5 separate regions of the Homo sapiens genome follow, and all the other regions are reported to be linked to region 1. Evidence: microRNA targets listed by miRTarBase, many of them from high-throughput screens and not tested one by one. Region 1 holds a microRNA gene; each other region holds the end of a gene's coding sequence.
What was found. Region 1 holds the annotated microRNA hsa-miR-6130 (UGAGGGAGUGGAUUGUAUG, at 1,589-1,607, opposite strand). A microRNA usually pairs through its seed, bases 2 to 8, with sites in the 3' UTR of a target mRNA and lowers its output. Matches are read on the target gene's strand: a 7mer-m8 pairs with bases 2 to 8, a 7mer-A1 pairs with bases 2 to 7 and ends in A, and an 8mer does both.

Region 2: the mRNA of HACE1 is a reported target of hsa-miR-6130. The part of its 3' UTR that is shown has no 7-base or 8-base seed match.
Region 3: miRTarBase lists SFT2D2 as a target of hsa-miR-6130. Seed matches in the 3' UTR shown: 7mer-A1 at 723-729, 7mer-m8 at 991-997 and 7mer-m8 at 995-1,001.
Region 4: miRTarBase lists PPFIA3 as a target of hsa-miR-6130. Seed matches in the 3' UTR shown: 7mer-m8 at 838-844 and 7mer-m8 at 1,005-1,011.
Region 5: miRTarBase lists SP2 as a target of hsa-miR-6130. Seed matches in the 3' UTR shown: 7mer-m8 at 2,843-2,849.

What each region holds. Positions count from the first base shown.
Region 1 is chr21:23,076,809-23,080,960 of GRCh38, reverse strand. MIR6130 (microRNA 6130) reads right to left here and starts at 1,677; the gene lies at 1,569-1,677.
Region 2 is chr6:104,725,945-104,730,096 of GRCh38, forward strand. It overlaps HACE1 (HECT domain and ankyrin repeat containing E3 ubiquitin protein ligase 1), which reads right to left. Exons shown (of 24, transcript NM_020771.4): 24 at 2,150-3,820. The coding sequence ends at 3,718. Among named protein-coding and RNA genes, the nearest start is that of HACE1, 130 kb to the right of the region's middle.
Region 3 is chr1:168,242,227-168,246,378 of GRCh38, forward strand. SFT2D2 (SFT2 domain containing 2) reads left to right here. Exons shown (of 8, transcript NM_199344.3): 8 at 275-4,152. The coding sequence ends at 314. It also overlaps the pseudogene ANKRD36BP1. Among named protein-coding and RNA genes, the nearest start is that of SFT2D2, 18 kb to the left of the region's middle.
Region 4 is chr19:49,149,752-49,153,751 of GRCh38, forward strand. It overlaps PPFIA3 (PPFI scaffold protein A3), which reads left to right. Exons shown (of 30, transcript NM_003660.4): 29 at 329-400; 30 at 485-1,275. The coding sequence ends at 387. It overlaps HRC (histidine rich calcium binding protein), which reads right to left. Exons shown (of 6, transcript NM_002152.3): 1 at 3,656-4,000; 2 at 3,510-3,580; 3 at 2,559-2,627; 4 at 2,253-2,307; 5 at 1,766-1,802; 6 at 1,447-1,581. The coding sequence ends at 1,545. Among named protein-coding and RNA genes, the nearest start is that of HRC, 3.6 kb to the right of the region's middle. RefSeq lists an enhancer at 1,581-2,190.
Region 5 is chr17:47,927,360-47,931,511 of GRCh38, reverse strand. SP2 (Sp2 transcription factor) reads right to left here. Exons shown (of 7, transcript NM_003110.6): 7 at 2,555-3,788. The coding sequence ends at 3,688. All of the region lies in intron 1 of SP2-AS1 (SP2 antisense RNA 1), which reads left to right. Among named protein-coding and RNA genes, the nearest start is that of SP2-AS1, 12 kb to the left of the region's middle. RefSeq lists an enhancer at 3,642-4,143.

The DNA.
Region 1 (4,152 bases):
AAATTTAACATCCCTTCATGAAAATAAAAGAAACTCTCAACAATTAGTTACAGAAGAAATGTACCTCAACACAATAAAACCCATATATGACAAACTTAGAAATAACACCATACGGAACAGAGAAAAGTTGAAAGCTTTTCCTCTAAAATCTAGCACAAGACAAGGATGTCCACTTTCATCACTTCTATTCAACATAGTACTAGAAGTCCTAGCCAGAGCAATTAGACAGAAGAAAGAAATAAAAGGGATTGAAAGAGAAATTAAAAAGGTAAATTATCTGTTTGCAGATGACATGATGTTACATATAAAAAACTCTATGGATTACACCAGAAAACAGTTAGAATTAATATATAAATCCAGTAAAGTTGCAAGATACAAAATCAACACACAAAAAATCAGTTACATTTCTATATACTAATAGTAAACTATCTGAAAAAAAGAATTCAAGAAGACAATTTCATTTACAACAGCTATTTAGAAAAAAAACCCTAGAAAAAACTTTAACCAAGGAGGTGAAGGATCTTACACTGAAAACTATAAATCATTGATTAAATAAATTGAAGAAAACATAAATATATAGATTTTTCATTTTCATTAAATAGAAGAATGAACATTGTTAAAGTGTACCCAAAGTGATCTACAGATTTAATGCAATGCTCATGAAAACACCAATGGCATTCTTCACATAAATTGAAAAAAAAATCCTAAAATTAGTATCAAATCACAAAAGAACCCCAAATAGCCAAAGCTGAAATCATAACAGTACCTGACTTTAAAATTATCTATAAAGATATAGTAACCAAAACATTATGGTAGTAGCATAAAAGCAGACACATAGACCAATGGAACAGAACAGAGAGCCCAAAAATAAATATGTGCATTTATAGCCAACTGATTTTCAATAAATCTGGCAAGAACACCCAATGAGAAAAAGATAGCCTCCTCAAAAAATGGTGCTGTGAAAACTGGATATTCACATGCAGAAGAATAAACAAGACTCTCTATGTCTCACCATATTCAAAAATCAACTGAAAATGGATTACATATTTAAATGTAAGATCCCAAACTGTGAAAGCTACTAGGGAAAAGCTCCACGACATTCGTGTGGGCTGGTCAAGGATTTTCTATTTAAAACCTCAAAAGTAAAAATTAGACAAATTATACTATTTAAAGTGAAAAAAGCTTCTGTACAGCAGTGAAGAGGCAATCTACAAAATGGAAAAAAATTTGCAAAATATACATCTGATAAGGAGTTAATATTCAAAATATATAAGGAACTTAATAGCAAGAAAACAAATAACCCTTTTAAAAATGGCTAAAAGACTTGAATAGATACGTTTCAAATGAAAACATACAAATGGCCAACCTGTATATTAAAATATGCTCAACATCATAATCATTAGGATATGGAAAATCAAAACCAAAATGAAATATTACCTAATTTCTACTAGGATTACTATTATCAAAAAGGCAGAAGATAAATATTGTAAATAATGTGCCAAAATTGTCACTGTTAGTGGGAATATAAATTAGTGCTATTAGGGAAAACAGCATGGAGTTTCCTCAGAAAATGTAAAAATAGAACTACCATACAATCCACTCCCTCAGTACTGCATATAAATCCAAGGAAAATTACATCAGTATATAGAAGGGATGCCTGCATTTCCACATTCATTGCAGCATTATTCACAATAACCAAGACATGAAATCAACCTAAGTGTCTATTAGCAGAAGAATCACTAAAGAAAATGTGGTATATTTACATAATGGAAGAGTATTCGGTCACAAACAGGAACAAAATCCCACCATTTGTGACAACATCAATGAACCTGGATGATTTCATGCTAAGAGAAATAAGCCAGGACAGAAATACCACATGATCTCACATATGTGGAATCTAAAAAGTGGAACTCGTAGAAGCAGAGAGTTGAGTAGTGGTTACCAGAGGCTGAGCTAAGTAGGAGGAGAGGGATTGGGTGATCCTGGTCAAAGGATATACAATTAAAGTTAGATATAATAATTGTTTAAATGTTTAGATATGCAAACATATAGAGAAAAAATGTAGACAAGTGATTGTATAAGGCCAGGAAGGTTGGGGAGAGGAGAACTGGCGGTGGAGGAGTTAGAGAAATAAGGAATAACCATTATTGGTTATGGAGTTTCTTTTGGGGCTAATGAAAATGTTCTAAACTTGATTGTGATGATGGAGGCACAACTCTGAGAACACTTCATTGTATTGCACATCCTAAGTGGGTGAAGAGTATATGCATTATATCTCAATAAAGCTCTAAAATAAAAATTATGGGTTTATTCTGCTACTTCTAATATCCATCTAAACTTATGCCATTACATACATGTATTCTCCATTTCCCACAGTGAGAATTCTCAAATATATTAATATACTTACCCTTTGTTTAATATATTTTCAAAAGTGTTATACCAACTGCACTATGAACAACAAACCTATGAAGTTGGGTTCAAAATATCTTTCTTTTTAAGAGGCAGGCCCCTATTTGTTTTGATAATTATTACTCAATATTGTATATATTAAATTATCACACTGAGTAATCAGAATATATATGATCTTTATTGGTTAATTAAATATATTTAAAGAAAATATCAAAATTTATTTCTTTAATTTTGTGTGGATACATATTAGGTATATATATTTATGGGGTATATGAGATGTTTTGATATAGGCATGCTATGTGAAATAAGCACATCATAGAGAATGAGAGAATGGGGTATCCATTCCCTCAAGCATTTATACTTTGAATTACAAATAATCCAATTACATTATTTAAGTTATTTAAAAATATACAATTAAGTTATTATTGATGATAGTCACCTTATTGTGCTATCAAATGGTAGATCTTATTCATTCTTTTTTATTTCTTATTTTTTGCACCCATTAACCATCTTCATCTCCCCTCCCAATCTTCCACTACCCTTCCCAGCCTCTGGTAACCATCCTCTCTCTGTGTCCATTAGTTCAATTGTTCTGATTTTTAGATCCCACAAATAAATGAGAACATGCATTGTTTGTCTTTCTGTGCCTATTTCACTTACATTATGATCTCCAGTTCCATCCATGTTGTTGCAAATGACTGGATCTCATTCTTTTTTTATGGCTGAGTGGTACTCCATTGTGGATGTTTACATTTTCTTTATCCATTCACCTGTTTATGGACACCTAGAGTGCTTCCAAATCTTACCTACTGTAAACAGTGGTGCAACAAACATATGAGAGCAAACAAATTTCCTTTTCAAAATATCTAAGTTTCTTTTTGTCTTTGGATTCAAATACATGTCAAAGTTACTTGTATTATTTTTTTCTTCAATGTATTTATGTTATCAATTTAATATATTTTGTTTTTGCATTGTTTCGAATTTTCTTTTTCATTTCTTAACATTTATATCTACTGAAATATATAAATTGGTAACATAATTTCAAAATTAAAAACCCTTTCCCATTATTTCTTACATTTATCAATCATTCTCTTTAGGTAACCAGATTTATAACATTTGCTTTATCATTTCTTTGCTTATTTTTGCCAAGGTATTTACTATAAATGGCAACACACTATTTACACTACTTTACACTTTCCTCTTTGTTACTTAACAATATATATCCTTGCTATCATTCCTTAGCAGTTGATAGAGACATTTTTCCTTTTTTTAAATCTCTGCATTGTAAAAAATTGTGTGGCTATACCTTAGTTTATTTAGCTATTTTTATGTGTGAGCATTAAGATTACTTCCAATAGTGTGACCTTATAGTTGATGCTACAATTAATAACTGTGATTATTTTCATATTGTTTTAGGTGTGTAATTTCAAGGAATTTCTTAGTAGTGGGCTTACTGCATCAGTTTCTCTGCTTAGTGCCATATTTCCAGCCATAGAAATTCTACCATTCCTCCTTCCCTTTGGCCATATATGAGTGGCTATTTGGCATGGTTTTACCAGCACAGTATTCTATCAAAATTTTGAATTTTTGTAATTTTAATAGGTGAGAAAAATGTTTCAATCTAGGTTTAACTTGTAAATCTCTTATTGCATGAAACTGGACGTCTTGCACATGTGTAAGGCAATGTTTATATTACTTTAATATTATCTGTTCATACCTTTTGCATATTTTTTCTCCTGGATT
Region 2 (4,152 bases), not on the chromosome of region 1:
ACTTTGGGGAGGCTGAGGCGGGTGGATCACTTGAGGTCCCTAGGGGTTCAAGACCAGCCTGACCAACAAGATGAAACCCCGTCTTTATTAAAAATACAAAAATTGGTCGGGTGTGATGGTGCATGCCTAAAATCCCAGCTACTCGGGAGGCTGAGGAGCAGAATCACTTGAACCCAGGAGGTGGAGGTTGCAGTGAGCCGAGATCATGCCACTGCACTCCAGCCTGGGCAACAGAGTTAAAAAAAAAAAAAAAAAAAAAAAGAGGGTAGAAAAAAGAGGGGGGAGGGAGGGGGGAGAGAGAGAGAGGAGGAAATGGCAAACTGGAGAGGGCATTTAGTTATTCAAAGCAGCAGCATTTACTCAATTCCATAATGCTTTGCAGGAATATGCACCCATGCACCCAATATTGTCAGATTGTCTCACTGCTCAAAAGGACCCAAAACTCCTGACTTCTGCATGAAATCTTCAGGTTTTGTAAAATCTTGGTAACTCATTCAAAATTTTAGAAACAGTATGACAAACAAAACATGTGAGTAGGAATCATCTCCTGGGCCTCCAACTTGTGAGCTATCCTTTAAAGCTTGCGTTTCCCGATACCCAAAAGACTGCCTGAATAGTAGAGGCTGTGTTCAGCAGATTATTTCCAAGCTGGGATTTCCTTCTATTACATTTTGTTTTGGGGTTAACTTGAAAATGGATTTTATTAACTACGTGGTTAATAACTATCTCCTCAAACTATTTGGATAACTTAATCTACTCTGCCCAGATAGTTTCATTAATCAGTTTCCTATAATACATTCCCTTGCTTTATATTCGAGTGTTTTATTTCTGTTTTCTTCCTTATATGAAACTACCATGTTTTAAGAATTGAGTCATTTTCCTATTAATATAATCTTTTTCCCAAAGGAGAAAATCTAACCATTTTTCTATACTACCTTGCATTCAACATATCCATCTACATACAGAAGAAATTGTGGGAATGGAGTAAATTAGAAAGATGCTACCTCTAAATAGTATTTTTAATCTTTGTAAAATCTCTTTATATTAACTACACTCTTATTTTAAAAATGTGAAAAAATAAATCCTAAAATAAGCAGATCTATATTTTAAAATATTCAAATTGATGGTTAAAATACTATTTTATATATATGCATATGGGTGTGTGTATATATATGTATATGGGTATATATATGGGTATATAGATACACATACATGTATACGAATATATATACACATATATATGTATACGAATATATACACATACATGTATACGAATATATATACACATATATGTATACGAATATATATACATGTATGTATACGAATATATATACACATATATGTATACGAATATATATACACATGTATGTATACGAATATATATACACATGTATGTATACGAATATATATACACATGTATATGTATACGAATATATATACACATGTATATGTATACAAATATATATACACACACATGTATATGAATACACACACATGTATATGAATACACACATATATGAATACACACACATATGTATATGAATACACACACACATATGTATATGAATACACACACACGTATGTATATGAATACACACACACGTATGTATATGAATACACACACACGTATGTATATGAATACACACACACGTATGTATATGAATACACACACACGTATGTATATGAATACATACACACGTATGTATATGAATACATACACACGTATGTATATGAATACATACACACATATATATGTATATGAATATATACACACATATATATGTATATGAATATATACACACATATATATGTATATGAATATGTACACACATATATGTATATGAATATGTACACACATATATATGTATATGAATATATACATATATATATTTTTTTTGAGACAAAGTCTCACAGGCTGGAGTGCAGTCACATGATCATGTCTCATTACAGCCTCGATCTCCTGGGCTCAAGCGATCTCGCACCTAGCCTTCCAACCACAGGCACATGCCACCATGCCCAGCTTATTTTTATTTTTTTGTAGAGATGGGGTCTGCCTATGCTGTCTAGGCTGGTCTTGACTTCTGGTCTTAAGCAATTCTCCCACCTCAGCCTCTCGAAATGCTGAGATTACAGACATAAGCCACCACACTCAGTTATTTAATATTTTATTATCTATCTCTTTTACATAACTACTTGCAAAAAAAACTAATATGACAAAGCCAATGTATTATATGGTTATAAACAGAAACATATCTGTAAACATTAGTATTATAAGCAGTGTAATATTAAAGGTGGTTATCTATTTGAAAACTCAGAAGGCAGTGACTTCTACAATTAAATTTCAAAAAATCAAAACATAAAACATTATTAGCTTCAGTTACTATAAATAAAGCATCCGAATCTTAATTTTAGAGCTAATGGTAACTTTTAAATAATTCCTAAATTTCATGTAATCTGTTAAGATATATTTTGTTAACATTTAGAAAAGACAAGAGAATAAGAGAATCAAAACCAACGAATTAAAGGAGCTTTATAATTTAGCAAAACTTTCAACTTACATGTCTCTCAAACATTACTGGCAAACACAATGACTGCTTATGAGAAAATCTGCATATGTCATTCTACAAACAGTAATGTCATTAATATTCTATTTTTAGTTTCCAAGGGAAGATCCTAAACATAACAAATCCTTCCGTTAGCATTTCTTCGTGTATGCATGTTCCTACTTCCTGTTCAAACATATGCTGTAACTATTCAAGTACGTCTTTTCAAAATAAAACTGATTAACCACCCAAAAATTCAAAAACCCACCAACATCCAAGTGATATTAGGCACATATCACTTGAACTTGACATTTTAATGATGAAAAGCAAATTTAAGAAGCAAAAAAATTAACATATTTAAATTATAATTTGCACATCAGATTACTTTTTCAGATGTGTCAGAGCTCACAGATAAAAGTAATGAAAAGAAACGTGGTAAAATACATTTTAATTTTACCTTCATTATAAATTAAAATGAGGCGTAAGAAAAACATTGAGACCATAATATATACATATGGAAAACTGGCCACTGAAAGATGCAAATAATTCATACAATATAGCGTAAGCTTTCATATATAAATTATATGTCATTTCATCAACTGTTAGTATCATCAGTCTAAATTTTACAATATATATTAAAATATTAAAATGCTAAAAAAATCATTGCAATATAGAATACACTGTGGCAAAATACGTATTTGTGGCTTTATAGACAATCTAAATCCATTCTATACAATAGTTTTCTAAAATATAAATGGCAGTTTACATGCAAAAGAACACACCAGCTGGATGACCTCATATAATATATCAGAAATTAGGAGAAAACACCCTTTTAACAAGACAGTTACATAGCAGAGGTGGAATGTAGAATCAGATTTTGCCTTAATACAATCTTGGATAAAATTAATTATGAAAAAGGACAGTCTCTATTACTTTCAGTTAGCATTTTAAAAAATAAAATCTACTGTGATTTTATATTTTCTAATTGTATCACAAACAGAGAAAACATAAAAGGGAAAAGAGAGAAACAGAAAACCTGATGATCCTTTATAAATTGGAAGCATCAGCCCTGCCTATGGGTTGCATTTAGGCTGCTTTTTTGTTGACATTTTCCCAAATTACTTCTGCCATTCTGAATTGTGCATCAGTAGTCAGAGGAGTTTTCCAGACTTCATTATGCCATTGTGTAACCATAGCTGCCACAATGTAGTGCCACAAGAAGTCTGTCCTTGAGTATTTCTTTACTTGGGTATTCAGGTAACTTGAGCATGTTGATGCTTTAAAAGAAAAATATACCACCATTAAACAGGAAATCTATAAAATTTCTGATTGTTTTGCCTAGCAGTGAAAACACTACTCATAATTAACATAAAATCATCCTCCCAAATTTGCATTCAGATTGAAAAACCCTAAAGTGGTATTTAAAAAGAAGAAAAAATCTGCTGCATTGCAGTTTCTTTCAGCATGCAAATGCAGTGGAAGAAAATACGTTCCTTTCAGCTTAAAATAAATAAGCAATAGGGCAATTTAGTTTGAAGTGATGGTGTGTAACTCAGTGCTACTTACGGTAGTGTAACTTTAGTGATACTTGAACTATAGTCAATTAAAT
Region 3 (4,152 bases), not on the chromosome of region 1:
TTTTCTCTGATTATGATGGCTAATCCCATAATCAGACTGTCGGGTAAGTGGGGACATCCCCTCTTACAGATGAGGAATTTGAAACTCAAACAGGACAAGGAACTTTCCCAGGATAGTACTACTAATAAATGTTGAAGCTGCAGTTTGATGCTGTGAAGGTCTGATCTTTCAGTCTAGGTGCTTTCTACTCTGCAGCTTCCACTCTGGGTGCCCTCTAAAGGAGTGCCTTTGGGGTGATGACGTTCCACTCATCTTTGTGTCTTTTCTTTCCTAGGGATGCTGTGAAGAAGTGTTTTGCCGTGTGTCTTGCATAATTCATGGCCAGTTTTATGAAGCTTTGGAAGGCACTATGGACAGAAGCTGGTGGACAGTTTTGTAACTATCTTCGAAACCTCTGTCTTACAGACATGTGCCTTTTATCTTGCAGCAATGTGTTGCTTGTGATTCGAACATTTGAGGGTTACTTTTGGAAGCAACAATACATTCTCGAACCTGAATGTCAGTAGCACAGGATGAGAAGTGGGTTCTGTATCTTGTGGAGTGGAATCTTCCTCATGTACCTGTTTCCTCTCTGGATGTTGTCCCACTGAATTCCCATGAATACAAACCTATTCAGCAACAGCACATAAGCCTTGGGTGCAAGTGATTCCCAGGTGGCAAAAGGCAGCCCCATCAGAGATCACGGGAGCAACAGTAAGGGACAGAGTTTTGGGGTCCACTTGTCCCTCAGCATGGAAGCCATCACCGTGGTCCTGCATAGAGTGAGTCTGCTTCTACTCTGGCATCTGAGAACAAGTGACTCTGCTTTAGACAAGCCCCTGGAGAGCCTGGCCATGGAGTGAGGTAGAAAAGAAGCACTTTTTGGTGGTATATGCTGTTTCTGAATTTGAATCTAAGCATTCTTGGTGTTCTGATTCTGCGCCTGACTGTGGAATGTATTTTCTGACATTAGGTGCAGACTCTTTTTCTCTTGGGTTTTATTTCCCATCCCTCCCTCCCTCTCCCTGCATATCTTTCTTTATGACCTCCTGGCACTAGATGGGGAAAGAACAGAGCAGCAGCAGAAAATGCTGCTGTTTTTTTTTTGGACGAGAGCCCATAGGAGTTGAAAAATCCTGCTGCTCTCAGCTATATTTTTTTCTCCATTATTTATAAATGTTTGCTTTTAAACTGATTTTATTTTCCATTCTCCCCTGGAGTTGGGCCAGGGGAGAGTGGGGTGGGAAGACAGATCCCTGCTGTGCAGCCAGCAGGAAGTAGGCACGCCTGCCCAGTGACCTTTAAATAGTCCCAGTGTTTGCACTTAGCCTGTGCTGGGGACACTGGGGATAAACTGCAGGTGGTCTCATGTCAGCCTGATGCCTAACCTACAAAGTGCTTTTGTGTCCACGATCTTACCTGGTTCTTATGGAGAGCCTTGTGAGGAAGCAGGGATTGTTATACCACTGTGCAGTCAAGGGAATCAAGGCCCACACTGGTTTTTGGATCCACCCAAAGCCACAGCTTCAGCCTCCTTCATGACCCCAGAGTTTCCTGGCCTGTTTCTGGTTGTGCCTCCTGTAACTGCCTGTGACTGTTTCCCTCGTTTTCATCAGCCAAGCCATCTCCTCCCTGGCCCTCCCTGCCCATCTCTTTTGGAAGCTTCTTCCTGGATCTGCAGGATGTTCACTGTCCCTTGTGTTCCCTTTCAGCTCCTCCTTGTTGCCTGACTACGATTAGTGCCCTGTCTTGTCAGCCAGCATTCCTGGCCCTCCAGGACCTCCAGAGTCATCCTACAAATGACGTTTATCTGGATTGCCTTTCTGTTCTTTGCACAGGGCCAACTGGTCCACTAGGGCTCCTCCTCTGTCACTGCTAAACCAAAGGAAGTGGCCTGCTGGTTGTCCCCTTTCTTGTGGCTAATTGCTGAACCTTTCTTTGTCCTACTGTGGCTAAGAACTCTGACTGGTTTTTTTTTTTTTTTCTTTTTGAGATGGAGTCTCACTCCGTCGCCCAGGCTGGAGTGCAGTGGCGTGATCTCTGCTCACTGCAACCTCCACCTCCCGGGTTCAAGCAATTCTCCTGCCTCAGCCTTCCAAGTAGCTGGGATTACAGGTGCCCGCCACCACGCCCGTGCTAATTTTTGTGTTTTTAGTGGAGACAGGGTTTCACCATGTTGGCCAAGCTGGTCTGGAACTCCTGACCTCAGGTAATCCGCCCACCTTGACCTCCCAAAGTGCTGGGATTACAGGTGTGAGCCACTGTGCCCTGCTGATCTTTTCTTCTGAGGCTGGGGAGGTGTGAACAAGCCTGACGGGGCCAGAGAGAGGAGCTAGTCTTCCCAGGTTCTTTCTAGGCTATTGATGACATCCAGTCATCTGCTCAGGTCACTAACCTGTCCTCAGCCAGGAAAGGAAATTTTATGCTACCCCTCTGGCTTTTGTGGGATTCTTTCACATCCCAGGTGCCTCTTGGAGACAGATCTCAGAAGGGCTGTGGTGTCAGAAGGGACATGGAGGAGGTCAGGAGGGCTCATGGTTCCTTTTCTTTAGAACTGATACGAGGCTTGGCTAGTCACTGTGAGCTCCAGCAGCTCCAGCAGCCTGGAATAAGACACCTAGAAGGCTCATCCCTCCATGTCCATGTCCTTTTTTTTTTTTTAGATTGAACAACCATGCTTTGTTTAAAAAATAATCTCAGCAAACTAGGGATACAAGAGAATTTCCTCAACCTGTCGAAGGGCATCTTTAAAATATCTACTGCTAACATCCTATGTAATGATGAAAGGCTGAATGTTTTCCCCTAAGATTGAGAATAAGACAGAGATGTCAACTCTTACCACTTCTATTCAACGTTGTACTGAAAATTCTAGCCACTGCAATCATGTTTTAATTGGGAGTAGGGGGAAAGAGGGAGGGAAGGAGAAAAATGAAAGGCCTTTAGATTGAAAAGAAATGAGTAAAACTGTCTATTCACAGATATTATCATCTATGTAGAAAACCAAATCAAATCCATTACTAAGTTACTGAAACCAGCAAGTGAGTTTCGCAACACAGCAGGATATATAATTGATATACACAAATCAATTGTGTTTCTCCATGTTAGAAGTAAAGAATTAGGAATTGAAAATTTAAAAATAATACCATTTACAATAGCATTAAAATATAAAATTCTTGGGAATAAACCCGACAAACTATGTGGATTATCTGTACACTGATAACTAAAAAGCATTGCTAAGAAAAATTAAGACCTAAGTAAATATCTTGTTGATAGGTTGAGAGACTCAACATTGTTGATGTTAATTCTTTCCCATATTAATCTATAGATATAATGCAGTCCCCATCCAAAGCCAAGCAGGCTTTTTTTTTTTTTTTTTTGTAGAAATTAAAAACTGGTTTTAAGATTCACATGGCATGCAGATGATCTAGAAGATCCACAGTAACTCTCCTGCTGTGCAGCTGGTTCCTAACAGGTCATGGACCTGTCCATGGCCTGTAGGTTGGGAACCTCTGCTACAGAGGATCCAGATTTAAATTCAGAAGAAGCTTCATCTATTTCTGTAGTTTCATTTTCTTGCAATAACTGCTGCATCAAACTTGAACTTCGCAGGATTTTCTGAAGCTGCTCAATTTGGCCATCTTGCTTTTTAATTGTATTTCTTAACACTAGAATTTTCTATTTCAAGTTTTTGTACGTGGCCTTGCGTCTCCTTAGTACATTTTATAGTCGCTGTAAGTTGATTCCATTTTTCTTGAAATTGAATTCTCATCTGACCTAATTTCTTCCTTGAATCCTACATCTCACTTTCTCAATGGACGCAGTGACGCAATGAAGCATCCAGCAAAGCTTTTGTTGTTGATTGTTTAGGACGTCACCCTGTTTTTGTTGAAGTTGTCTCACAACTACTTCTCTTTCTGCTTTCTCTCTTTCATATTGACATTGTTTTTCTTTCAAATGATTAACTTTATTGATCATCCTCTTGTTCTTCTAGCAAAAGACGGTGCTTTATGCACTCAGCTTGAAGATTTTGTGCTGTAGCATCACATTTGGCTTGACTATCAATTACTGTTTTTTCTTGATTGTCAGCTTTGTTGTGAACATCATCCAGTTGCTGTTGAAGCAACATATTTTGTCTTCGTAGTTGACATAATCTTACTTGCTTTTCTGTGCATT
Region 4 (4,000 bases), not on the chromosome of region 1:
GCTTCCCTAGGGTGGGGCATGGACCACCTCAGTAGTCCGGGTTCTGGAATGGCCTAGTCCTTTCTCGCCCACCCCTGAGGAATGGACTGCTCCAACGTTCCGGACTCCCCCGTCAGGATGAAATGGATAAATCCCACTCCCCCTTCCCAGGGCGGGAGTGAACTCGCCCAATGCGAGTTTGAGTCCTTGGCTGCGGGGAAGGGAGGGAAACCCATGTGGAGCCCGGCGATCGTTGTGACATCGGGAAGGGAAGTCCAAAGGGAGGAATCCTGGAGAGGAACAGGGAGGAGGGTGCTCCAGGCTGAACCGCTGCTCGCTCTCCCTCCAGGCCAGACTTCTGGGAGTTCCCGGGCAGACGGCGTTTCGGTCCGGACCTATTCCTGCTAGTGCAGGCCTCCAGGTGAGGACCGTGCTGGGCGACCTTGGGGGTGCGGGGCGGCACGGTGGATCTTCACTGCTCCACGCGCTGCCCGGCGTCATGCAGGTGACCTCACTCGGACGGAAGAATCTTCCCGAGGCTGGGCTGTTCCCTCTCCTGCCCGGACTGTGGCCTCGCCGGGGAGAGCGGGCGGGGGAGCTCGCGCCGAGGACTGGACCATCTGTACAGACCAGCGGGAGTGCGCGCGCCCGCCTCGCACAGGGCCGGGGCCTGGACCAAACCACATGAACTGGACTGAGAGGGGGAAGAAGCGGGGAGGAAGAAATCCCGCCCCAAACGTCCGCTTTCCTTTTCTCTACTTTGTAATTTATTGATCAGTTTCTGTTGGGAGACGGGTGTCCTTTACCCGCGGGAAGGGGGCGGGGCTTCCCTCCCGGGCCGCATGCGGGGAGAGGCTGCTCCCTCCCCTTTTTCCTGCCCAGTCGCGGGGCCCAAGTCTTCCTTCTTCGTCCGAAAGGAGGGGAGGGGGGACTCGCTGCTACAAGCCTCGCCCCCTGTGCCACTCAGCTCCGCCCCGCCGCGTCCGGTCGCCGGTCCCCCGGGTCATCTGCGGGCGGGTTCCCCTCTCCCTCCCCCGTGTCTCGTGTCCCCGGGGCCTCACCGCCCCCCGTGCTGTGGCCGTGTCCGTGCCCCGGGGGTAGGGGGCGCAGAATGGCGCTTCCCCTTCTCCTCTGGCTCCGGGGTTTGCATGGGAGAATCCTCTTTCCACGATGCCGCTGGGCGACGTGGCGTGGGGGCAGGGGGACGGTGGGGGAGCCCTCGCCCCCGACTCTCGGTCGGCCTCCCCGCCCCAGGCGTCACTCAGTGATCACGGGTAAAGAGAACTGTTTCAAAAAGCTTCCTTGTTGACTGATTTTTTTTTTGCGGGGGGGGGGGGGGCTGTTCAACCAACCACCTCGAGCCAGGAGTCCAGGCCCCTCATCCCTCAAGTCTAGGTCCAGGTCTCTAGACCCTACCCGCATTCCCCGATGCCCTGAGATTCCCAGACCCCACGTCTGACAATGAGGTTTCGGGGAGCACGTTTATTCGGAGAAATAAATATAGCTCGTGGAAAGGGGTTGGAAGGCAGGGGGAGGTACACCTGCGTCGCAGTCGAGCGACTGGGTCAGGGTTCCGGCGTTTCCAGCATGTCTGCCAGGGCCCTGGAGACGAGAACGCCAGAAGTTAGACAGCTGGTGTTCAAAGCCCACCCCAGGACGCTTAGAGATCATTAACCTGCCCATTTCATGGACGGGGAAATGGAGTCCCAGAGTCATCTGATAACTCATAGCGAGACAAGCACTTCTCTAAACGGGGCTTTTACACGCTCCCCTTTTACACACTTACTGATAAAGGGACGAGGAGAAATAGTCAACGTAGCTTCCTGTGGGACAGCAGAGAAAAGAGGCTTGAGGGGTACTGCACGAGCAAAATTAGGCAGCCACTCAGTATAGCGTGCGAGATTAGTGCTAGCTCCACCTCCTTTTCCCTAATTCCTTCTTCCAACTGAATCCCTTCTACCGGACCCCTTTTTCGTTCTGGGTGATTCCGTTCTCCAGTAGCCCCGCCCCTTCGATTCCTACTTGAGTTGGCCTCGCCCATTAGGCTCTAAGCCCGCATCTCAACCCTCCACTCATTTCTGTCCCTTGGCTCCAGCAACTCCACCTGGTGTTCCTCGAGCCAGGCCCCGGCCCACGTGCTCAGAGCCTTGGCCACGCCTCCCCTCTTAGCCCCGCCCCACCAGCCTACCGGGCCAGGCTCCGCCCCCACCAGGATTCACCACGCTGGGCCCGGCACCTTCCTCAGGTTTTTCCAGGGCCCCGCCCATGCTCACCTGGAGCGCAGACCGTTTCGCAGACCAGCGGGCAGAGATAGCAGAACTGACAGTGCTGGAGGCGGGGACGGGGAGAGAGAGTGAGCGTGGGGCGTGGCCGGGGGCGGAGTTAGGATGGGGCCGGGACCAGACCCGGACCAGAGGCTAGGTCTAGGTTAAGGTTGGAGTCAGGATCGCTTGTGGAGTCAAGGTTGCATCAGGGGTAAGGGGTTGGGTCAGAGGCCAGGATTTAGGGCTGGGGGTCCTCAGAGGGTCCCGGTGCATCCTGAGGCCCAGTGGAGCCTTGAGTGTGAGGTGAGGTCTCACCTGGCACTGGTCGCAGTGCTCACCCATGTTCTCCTCATCACAGTGACAGCTCTCACATTCAGTGCATCGCTGGGGACCGGGGGAGCCTGGTTAGATGGAAACTCTAACGCCACTTGGGAGGTACCCGCCCCTGGCCCACCCCTGCACCCTGGACGCTTCCCCAGACTCTACCCTCTTTATCTCTAACACTGAGCTCTGTATCTGCCCCCCAAACCAGCCTCCCCTCCCCTCCCCTGCCCCTGGTTTCCTTCCTTTCCCTTTTTTTCCTTTTTTTTCTTGAGGCGGAGTCTCTCTCTGTCGCCCAGGCTGGAGTGCAGTGGCGCAACCTCAGCTCACTGCAACCTCCGTCTCCCGGGTTCAAGCGATTCTCCTGCCTCGGCCTCCTGAGTAGCTGGGATTACAGGTGCGTGCCACCACGCCCGGCTAATTTTTTTGTATTTTTTAGTAGAAATGGGGTTTCACCGTGTTAGCCAGGATGGTCTCGATCTCCTGACCTCGTGTTCCGCCCACCCTGGCCTCTTAAAGTGCTGAGATTACAGGCGTGAGCCACCACACCCGGCCCTGCCCCTGGTTTTCTATCTCAGGGCGACCCCATGTCTCCCTGTCAGGGTGGGCTCAGGTGCTCTCTCCACCCGCTCTCTGCCTATTCTCCCCCTAGCCTATCAGCCCCTGTGCCATCCCTCCTTCCCCCGACTCTCTTTGCCACAGACCCCTGTCTCTGTCCCCACACCCCAAGATGCAGCTTGGGTCTTGTCCTCTCCTTCCTGGACCACTGCCCCAGCCTCCCAGCCTTCAGTCTGTCCTCACCTCACATGCCTGCAGAAGGATCTCTTTTCTTTCAGAACTGACCCTGGCCTGCCCTTGCTCTGAGCCCTCCCACAGCACCACCCCAGGGCCCCTGGGACAGATTCTGGGGACACCTTGGTGGGTGGATCTGGGCTGGGGACATACATTGCAGAAGGAGCAGTAGCCACACAGGGACCCTGGCTGGTAGTTCCCATACTCCTGAGCATCCTGTGGACCTGCGGGGACAGGAGGGCAGCAGTGACCCAGGCTGACTCGGTTCCTTCCCACCCACACCAGCCCAGGCCACTTACCTGTGTCCTCACCGCTTTCCTCCTCGCTGGAGGCACCTCCAGCCTCCTCTCTCCTGTCCAGTGGGTTGGGGATGATGGTGAAGCGGGGCTCATCTTCCTCCAGCCCCTCCTCCTCCTCCTCTTCCTCCTCGCTGTGGTCTGGGCTCAGTGGGGCCCCAACCTCAGCCCTCTCTTCCCTCCTCTCCTCGTCTTCTTCCTCCTCCTCCTCCTCCTTGTCTTCCTCTTCTTCCTCCTCCTGGTTCAGGCTGAGGCCATGACCTTCCTCCTCATCCTCCTCATCTTCCTGGTCCCGGCTGCCATGATGGGTGCCTTTCTCTCCCTGCTCTGAACTTTCATCGTCTTCCT
Region 5 (4,152 bases), not on the chromosome of region 1:
TCCTACACACCTACCCTGGGCTTGGGGATAGATCTGAACCCTTATCTTGCTCCATCCTGTCTTCCTCAAAATATGTCGTGTGGCAGGCTGTAACATCAGCACTGTCATCAAACAAGCCTGGGGCCTCACAAGGGCACTGGAAAGATGATTTTTTTTCTTTTTTTTGAGACAGAGTCTTGCTCTGTCACCCAGGCTGGAGTGCAGTGGCACGATCTCGGCTCACTGCAACCTCTGCCTACTGGGTTCAACCAATTCTCCTGCCTGCCTCAACCTCCCAAGTAGCTGGGACTACAGGCATGCGCCACCACGCCCGGCTAATTATTATATTTTTTAGTAGAGACAGGGTTTCACTATGTTGGCCAGGCTGGTTTTGAACTCCTGACCTCAAGTGATTCACCCGCCTCGGCCTCCCAAAGTGCTGGGATTACAGGCATGAGCCACTGTGCCCGGCCAGAAAGATGATTGTAAAAATGGACTGGGTGGTCTGAAGGAAGGGCAAGGAAGACCCATTTGCTGGTTTTGTTAAAGAAAAAAAAAAAAGTACATATAATGCCTGGATTTGCCTTTGGGAGGGAAATCCTGCCCAGTCCCTCTTTCTTCCAGGCATGGAATCCTAGGCTGTGGGATAATGAGCACAATGCCAAGTGTCAGCTGGACAGAGAGGAAGGGCATGAGGGATGGGCTTTGGTGCACATGACGCTGGGGACAGTAGAGGACAGAGGAGGAACTACACATGTGGGGCCCCTACCCTTGAGCTGCACCCAGATTTTCATCAAGGGCCCATCAGGATCAGGTGTCTGTGGGAGCCTCTTGCCTAGGGTGAGCTTAGACTGCATCACACCTTCAACAGTTCCCCTGCAACTCTCAAATAATGGATAGGTTAAAGCCAGAGGAGGGTTAATTTGCCCACAAGTCTTTCTGTGCTTTCCTTGTGCCATCACTCAGCTAGGCAGAATACATTCTCTCGCTCTTAGCCATCCCAAGGGAGGCAGAGATGATCAGACATAACTTTTGAACCCCCATCTCACTGGAGAAGGGAAATCCTACATGGGAAATGCTCATCCTGCCCAACTTGGGGCTGGCACCTTCATTTCCAAATGATGCTGGGGAGTCAGGTCAGTTTCTGTACTGGAAGCATAAAGCACATGGCTTGAAATCAGCTCCCAGGAAAGGATCATTCTTTGTGCCTGAGAGCAAAGCCAAGGGAAACGTGGCAAAAAGAGGTCACTTTGTTAATATTCCCCTTCTCTCCACCAATCCCCTTATTCAGAATGCAGCAAGGCAGTTTTCTAGTCATGCAGTCCACGCATGAGGAATAAATACACCTCATGTCTTCCACCTGCTGCCAGTGCGGTGATGAGATGCAGAGCTGAGGGGCTGAGGAAGAGGCTTCTGTGTCAAGGTAGATTCAGCTGGTGGTCTAGTATTGCCCAAACGACTTCCGTAGGGATAGGAAAGGCCCCTGCTTGTTAACAAAGAAGAGGGAAAGGGCAGAGAACCTGGATCCATCTGAGATCTGTGGGCTTTTTACTTTTTCAGCCATTTGAGGGTTGACTGGCTCTAAGGAAAAGCTGTTTGCTGGCAGACACAGGTGGCTGGTGACAAAGGGAACAGAGCAGGGGAATGGATAGCTCAAAACGAGCCTCGCCACTCCTGAACAGAACAGCAATCCCAGCTGTGTCCTTTCGAGGGTGAGTGAAAGCACATGCTGTCCTTTACATGCTTGAGGCGGACTTGCCTGTCTCTTCAGGCCGGATGCTCTTCAGGGCCCTGTGGGGCTTAAACACATGTACTGAGCTAGCTCCAATCTTAATCTGCACAACATCGCAACCCCTGAGTTCCTATTAGTTCTGCAAAACAAAGCAAAACAAATCCCCACCAAAATTTCAGATTTGTAGCATCTGCTAAAACCAAAAGGCACAATCAACTTCTTGTCCTCTCTGGGTTACTGGGCAGGCGATATAGAAGGAACCAGTATCTGTGGCCAGAGTCCTCTATCGGGTGCAGCTGGGCTCCAGGCCTCTCTAGCTGCCAAGCCCTCCCAGGAACCTGCCTCGCCCTTCACTTTGGGAAGGGACCTTGGCCCTTGGGGAAATGCATTGTTGCCAGACTGTAGCCTTCTGGAGGGGACTGAGCCAAGGCCCCATTGGCTCTCCTCTCTAAGCTTCTTATTAATGGGCTCTGAGGCCAATGCCTTCCTCCAGGGGTTGGGGAGGTGGGTGGAAGAGCTAAGTTGCTGGCTGAGGTCACTGCTGTAACTTGGCTCTTCGTATCTGCTTTGTGTACAGGCAAAACTGGCTTACAGAAGAAAAAGGCAGGAACACCTGCATTGGGCCCTGGCCCTTGGAGGTGCTCTGGGGGCTCGTGCCAGTGTCATGAGGTATATGTGGCCGCGGCCCCTTTTGGGCATGTGGCTTGGGTTTGCCGAGGGTCAGGAGGGCAAGGTCCTACCTTGGTCCCAGTGTGGATCGCTCTGAGAGACCACAGCTCCCTCCTCTGGAGTCCCCTCTCCGAGCTCTCCAAGGGAAAAGACAAAGGAAGCCGAACTGCCAAGTTGAAGATTTTGCCTCAGGCAACTAAATTTATTAGCAAGAAAAAATTTTTGTCAGCCCAGTGCTGACCAACAAAGTACGTTAATAAAGGATAACAAATCTGTCACTTAATTCATAAAACATACCTCAAGCAGTTACAACTAAAAATAAAGTTGGATTTTTGTTTAATTTAAAAGCCTCAAAAATAACAAGCAATGTGTTTTTAAACATGTAGTAGACACAATTGTCTATTATACAATATACACTGTACACAAGTAGAGCTTGGGCCGGGCAGGGGTGAGGTGAAGGGAGAGGGAGGAGGTGCAGGATGTGCAGGTGCTGTTATCTGAATCCAGATTTGAGTTTAAATGCTGTGTCATTTAGAAAAGGGAATTGCTAGAGTGAGAAAAAATTCATATGCTCATCATTGCCCCCAACCCTCAACTGAAAGCAGGCATCAGGGAGGTGAATAACAAGGAAAGGAAGAAGGGAGCAATTAAATAAAACTTCTTTAAAGCACACACAGTACACAGTGTTCATCATCTGAAGTAGAGTATAAGGCAACGTTCTCCATAGAAAAAGAGGGGGATCAGGAGTCGGTGGGTGTCTTTACTTTTTAAATAGAGCTGGAATGTGCTGGAGGAGAGGTTGTGGCGGGGCTGGGCACATGGAGTGGAGGTGGCCCCGAGTTTCTCCAGAGGTGGGTGCCAAGCCCCAGGGCGTCCACAGTGGCCGGCAGGGCCAGGGAGGTGCAGGAGAGGGGGCATGGCATGACGCGACTCCGGCAGTGTTGGGAGCGGGGATCGGGGTGGGGGGTAGGGGCTCACTTTGCTCCTCGACGGAGTGAAATGCATGTTTTTCCTTTGGAAATAAGGGTTCCCACGCGTCCTGGTTTAGAACGTCTCATTGGGCACGGCCAGTGTCCACAGTCTGGGCAGGCCGGGAGCTCGTGGTGAGGGGAAGGGCCAAGGCAGAGCCAAGGGGCTTCAGAAGGAGGACAATACAGGGAACAGAGCCCCTTCCTGTGGGGACAGTTGCAGAACAGGAGTGGGGCTGAGGGCAGGCCCAAGGCAGCCACAGGGCTCCTTTCCACCAGGGGCCCAGGGAGGACACAGGTGGGGGACTGCATCTTCAGGGCCTCCCGCCGCAGTTGGCCTTACAAGTTCTTCGTGACCAGGTGGGTCTTGTAATGCTTGGTGAGGTGGTCACTCCTCATGAAGCGCTTCTGACACTGGGCGCACTCGAAGCGTTTGTCCCCTGGGAAGAGGAGATGCCCATCACCCACAGACCCTGTGCACAGACCCTGTCTCTGCCCAAAAAGGTGGGGTGCGTGTGAGGTGCACCCAATCAAGCTGACATGGCCTTGTCACCACATTCTGCCCACCTCCTGCTCTCACATTTGCTCACTGGTGCTTACTCATCTATATCTTTTTTTTTTTTTTTTTTTTTGAGATGGAGTCTCACTCTGCTGGCCAGGCTGGAGTGCAGTGGCACAATCTCCACTCACTGCAACCTCCACCTCCCAGGTCAAGCAATTCTCCTGCCTCAGCCTCTCAAATAGCTGGGACTACAGATGCCCGCCACTGCACCCAGCTAATTCCTGTATTTTTGTAGAGACAGG